Regions from separate parts of the Homo sapiens genome. Here region 2 is linked to region 1. A link means that fine-mapping ties the variant in region 1 to the expression of a gene that starts in the linked region. Tissue or cell type: whole blood. Region 1 holds a variant in brackets; the other region holds the start of a gene. All regions are shown on one strand. Distances are from middle to middle.

What was found. PIP is the estimated chance that this variant, and not a neighbour inherited with it, causes the effect.
Region 2: LYRM4 starts here. The variant in region 1 is fine-mapped to the expression of LYRM4 in whole blood (INTERVAL, PIP 0.91).

The regions. Positions count from the first base shown.
Region 1 is chr6:5,174,332-5,177,015 of GRCh38, reverse strand. The region is part of intron 2 of LYRM4 (LYR motif containing 4); the gene reads left to right. The region is part of intron 3 of LYRM4-AS1 (LYRM4 antisense RNA 1); the gene reads right to left. Among named protein-coding and RNA genes, the nearest start is that of MIR3691, 27 kb to the right of the region's middle. The variant A/G (reference allele first, on the strand shown) is at 1,201.
Region 2 is chr6:5,259,353-5,262,036 of GRCh38, reverse strand. LYRM4 (LYR motif containing 4) reads left to right here and starts at 1,087. Exons shown (of 3, transcript NM_020408.6): 1 at 1,087-1,389. The coding sequence starts at 1,304. It overlaps FARS2 (phenylalanyl-tRNA synthetase 2, mitochondrial), which reads right to left and starts at 524. Exons shown (of 7, transcript NM_006567.5): 1 at 377-524. RefSeq lists silencers at 1,007-1,226, 1,287-1,596 and an enhancer at 1,807-1,856.

The DNA of each region.
Region 1 (2,684 bases):
GATATTTTCAAACAGTCAACAATCCTAATCAAAATGTGTGCTACTGAAATAAGTTATTTGGAGTATTAAAACAAGTATCTTCCTGTGGACAACACTACTCATTTGTAATTATGTGATGGGAAGCTTGGGGAAATGTACAGGAGCTTTCAGAACTTATACTTCTGCCTCATGCCATTGTAGATGAAATTATATACTCACACTTTTAGAAATCTGAGATACACATTCACCAAAACTTTTAACCACTGTGAAAGAAACAGATAATCAGCTGTCATTATCCTTGTGTTCAAGATGAAGACCGAAACTTCATTTTCAAAGGTAACTCTGTCAGATCATAACATAAGCACACTTCCTTCAGTGCTTCAGGCCTCAGTAACAGCCAAGACTTATTTCTAAACCACACTGCTCATCAGGGTGCAGTCTATGAAAACTGCCCAGGAAACCTCCTTCCCATTGGTTCCTGAGGAGGGGAGGAACGGACAGCAGACAGGTGAGTACTCAATTTGATTATCTCAGGTAAAGCTTAGAACCCAGCAAAGGCTAACAGACAGTATCACTGGTAGCACCAAAGAAGCCATTTCAGATAATTTCTTAGTATTCCGTAGGCCTTAGTATACCAACAATCTGTTTCTACCACCTTAAAATTTAATAGCGTAGGCCAGGCACGGTGGCTCATGCCTGTAATCCCAGCACTTTGGGAGGCTGAGGCGGGTGGATCATGAGGTCAGGAGTTCAAGACCAGCCTGGCTAATATGGTGAAACCCCATCTCTACTAAAAATACAAAAATTAGCCAGGCATGGTGGCACATGCTTGTAGTCCCAGCCACTTGGGAGGCTGAGGCAGAAGTATAGTTTGAACCCGGGAGGCAGAGGTTACAGTGAGCTGAGATCACGCCACTGCACTCCAGCCTGGGCAATAGAGCGAGACTCTGTCTCAAAAAAAAAAAAAAATTAATAGCGTAATACAACCACCATTTTTGTTATAACTCACAGATTATCTGGGCCGGGAATGCTGATAGTGCACATGCTATCAGCCATAGCTGGGAAGACTGTAACACTGGGTGTACTCAAATGGCTGGGGTTTGGAATCACCCGGAGACAGGTCTGGTGCCTAGGCCAGGATCAGCAGCAGCTGTAGAGCAGAATGTCTGTGTGGCCGGGGCTTCCTCACATCGTGGTAGCCTCAGAGCAGTGCGACTTCCT[A/G]CTTGGTGGGCAGAACTGCAGAGGAGAGTGTTCTGGAGGACAGAGCAGAGCTGTGTGGCCTTTTGTGAAACAGCCTTGGAAATATGTAGTTTCATTTCTGCCATATTTTTTTGGTCAAAGGAGTCACAGGCTCAGATTCAAAGTGTGGGAACATAGACCCCCGATTCTCAATGGCAGGGGTGTCACAAAATGTGTGACCCTGTTTTAAAACCACCACAGGCCCCCTCTCCTTAGTATTCCACTGGCCCTTTATCCTGGAAACCTCAGGAAATGGTTTTTCCTGATTTTCTTCTTTAATTCTCCTCTCCCATCCCTTCCTCAATCCAGTTCAAGGATAAGGGCCTAGAACTCCACCTGTGTCCTATTCCCTCTTGAATCCACAGGTCGAGCAGGAAAGTGAAGGATGAGGCTGGCATGTGTAGAAGTGCCAGTGGAGGGCGCTGTGGCTGACTAGAAGGCCTCTACGTTTTAAAGGACAGCTGTTCCAAACGGAGGTGGGAATGAAGTCCTTGTGTTTCCAGATTTCCCATTTTAATGTGAAATTAGATATTGAAATATTGCTTCATAATGTTTTAAAAGCATACCATGAGATCTGGGTTTATGCTCTTGTCTATGCACTGGCTCTGAGCCCCTCTTTGAAAGACCCAGAACTCATAAAACAAGGCATTATTTAAGATTGCACATTTATGTTTATCCCCAGAAATTTCCACATTGGGGTCTGGAATGCCATTGCTTCTTTAAATACTACTTACTTTAAATCATATTTGCAAAGAATTCTTGTAACTGAGAATCTAGGCGCTCAATAAATAGACCGCATCCTTCCTTCATCTGCACATGAATGGCAGCATTTTGTGCATTAATTACGTGTGTGATGTGTCTAAGCTGAATTGGCTGAGGAGCAGAACTTTAATGATTAGCTGTATAAAACTGAAAGAGAGCTTCAATTTTGACGTTAAGCCTTGCTTATCTTTTATATTCTCAGCCTTTCTCGACGTTTGTTAGAATTTAAACTTGTCCTAAGCATGACAACATCTGTTCAAAAGAGAGGGGGGATAATATATGTTTATATATACACACCTTAATTTAGTATTGGGGACCTTCCAGTTACCAATTATAAGTGTAAAGACTAAATAAAAGTTATAGAAAATTAGACAAAATAAACAGTGACCAAGAGAAGATTTAAGAAATCTGAAGCTAAAGATTTATTTTTCTGCCTGCCCTCCTTGAAGTAACCATTAAGTTTATAAATAGCCTCCTTCCTCTGAGAAGAAAGGTCCTAGTGACACCAAACAGGATGCGACGCGCTGAGTACTCTCCCCTTTCATTTTGAAACTCGAGCTTTTGTGAAGACTATCATTGTGCATCCGTCTGTCTCTCCTCATTACCACTTCTGGTTGGAGCCGGAAGCAGGACAGATGCATATAGTCCTCATTTCAACCACAGGAATTGACTTTAAAGGTGACACTGTCCTTAGTAACACAGCT
Region 2 (2,684 bases), 85 kb before region 1:
GCTTTGCAAACACAGTAACTAGGACTGGCTGAAGCTTCCTGCGTCCAGTGCCATGCTCAAAGATCAGAACAAGCAACTTTATCCACCACTTTAATAAGATGATTCAAAAAAGCTGCAGTCTTCTGAAGAAAGCCATGGTTGAAAACTTGCTCCGCTTCTTGGAGAAAGCCTAAAGCCCTAAAGGTCTCTAATTATTCTCCAAAGTCTACAACCCAAGCTGCATTTTATGCATTTATTAGGTTACAAAACCACGGGAACTCTTCACTCAAAAGCAAAAACACATCCGGAAAGAGGAAAAAATCCACGGCCAATGTAAACCCCCTACAACACCAACCGCCCACGTCGTACCCCAGGCTGCAATGAGGCCGGCACTCACCCACCGCTCGCCCGGGAAGCCCAGACCCAGGTGTTTCAAAATCAGAAGTACGGCAGGCTCGTTCGCTCTCACGGGCAAGAATCTTAAACCCCAACTTCAGAGATACCCGCGCACGCTGGGCGCTGCCATTTTGACAGAAAGCGGGCCTGCCCCAGAGGCCCCTACGCAGGTCGCCCTGAGCAGAGCCGGAGTGCCACAGAACCCCTAGCTCATCACCTCCACACCCAGACGTCGCATCCCCCGGCCTGAGGAATGCCAAGAAACCCCACCCTGCCGACCAGGATCAGGCGAAATCAAGTCACCCTTGAAATCCCGCAAACTCTCTCAGGCAGCGCCGAGGGCGACCGCAGCCGGCGTGGGAGGGGCATCGGCGGTCAGGGGCGGGGCGTCGGTGCGGCGGCCTTCGGTAACCCGGGCAACGCGGCCTCCTGGATGTAGGAAGGGGCGCTGCCCCCGAAACACAAATGTCTCCGCCAAGACCCCAGACGGTTCCCAAAGGCTCTCCGTGATGCAACTGCACGTCCCTCGAATGCCTGGGCCTCCGATATCCGTCCGCCAGGAGCTTGGCTGGATGCACGGGCGGCCAGTCCTCTTATTTCCCCGCCCTCCCGCCGCGTGGAGCGGCTGCTGGGTCCCGAGCCTCCGGGCGGGGGCGGGATCGGGGCGGGGCGGAGGCATCTCCCTCCCAGCACCGCCCCCTTAGCTGCCCCGAGCCCTGCCTGCGCCCGCCCCCGAAGCGGCGCGGGACGCCTGGCGCCGTCCGCGATCCGCAGGGCTGCCCGCTTAGGCTTAGGCCCGGCCCGCTGGCAAAGCCGAGCCGCAGCATTTTATTTCGTTCGTGGTTTCCGCACAGGCTGGAGTTTCGTGGGTTGGGTCGTACTTGGGACCTCGGCGAAGAGGACCCGTTTATTTTTTTTTCTTTCCAAAATGGCAGCCTCCAGTCGCGCACAAGTGTTATCTCTGTACCGGGCGATGCTGAGAGAGAGCAAGCGTTTCAGCGCCTACAATTACAGGTGACCCAGCGGGCACCGGGGGCCGGGGGCGGGGGGCCAGGGGCCGGGGACCGGGGGTGCGGGCTGACGCGGAATATCCCCGGGGACTGGGAGCCACCGTGGTTTGCCGGCGGCTGCGAGGCAAGGACCGGGCTCCGCCATCGAAAAGCGTGCTCCTGCCTACAGGTGTGGCCTCTGAGACCTCGGGGAGGAGCCTTTCTTTCTACCAGGGGAGACGTTCATGTCTTGTGACGTTTTCCCCCTAAAGGCTATCTTGGTAGTTATTCTAGGAGCATGATTAGTGTTATGTTTCTGCAGAAGAGAAAAAAGGGATGGAAATCAGTCATTTGTGAAGTTAAGGCCAGTGTGTTGCATATGTAAAACTTCCCTTGAGCACTGGAAGAGTTGAGAGTGGAAGTGGCCAGTGAGTAGTACACTGCGACAAAGCTGAAGGCACACTCTAGCACCTCCCTAAAATTTCCTAGGTGTCGTAATGAGTTCTTTTGGTTGCAAGAATCCATTCTATTTAGGGTATGGTGGAAATGCGTAGCGGAAAAGGAAAAAGGGTCTCACAAGCTTTGGAGCTGAAACCTCAGTTTCTCCTGGCTCACCAGACAGAGATCCCGCTTACTGGACCTTGACAGCAGGATATTGAGGGCCTAAACTCACATCTTTAATATAACACATTCACTTTTTCTCACGCCTCCCCACTCCCCTATTTGCCTATGAGTCTTTTATTGTTACTCTTTGTATGTTTTTTCTAATTCAGAGCCTCTGCTTTCACAGTGTTGCTGGTTCTGACCCATCATTTTCTTATGGATTCTCTCTCTGCATTTTTTTTTAGATTTGTTTTTTGTTTTGTTTTGTTTTTACTAACTACCTGTCTCTCTCTGAGTTTGAGCCATATTCCCATGAGAAAGAATCTGGTTGGATCAACTCATCTCTTTACCTCAAGCCTCACTTAGGTGACTGGCCAGACTGTGGATTGGATGTCATAAGAGCAGAGCCTACCCTTGGAACACACCTGGTTAGGTAGGCCCCCCTCCAGCACGTGTGTGAGCTGGCAGGCCCTGAGATGGGTCTGCCCAGTACAACCTCTGTCAGAGGACAGGAACGCTAAGCCTCTTAAGCAATGACTCTCAAATTTTTAGAAACCCGCCTGGAAAATATACTCATGCTGCAAATTTGAAAACAGCATCTGGGTCATACCACTGAGGTTGTATCCACCCAGTTAAGTGGTTAAATTTCACGGGAGAGAATGATTTTACTTAATGACTTTGACTTTGGAGAATAAAGAGTGTAATAATAAGCATACT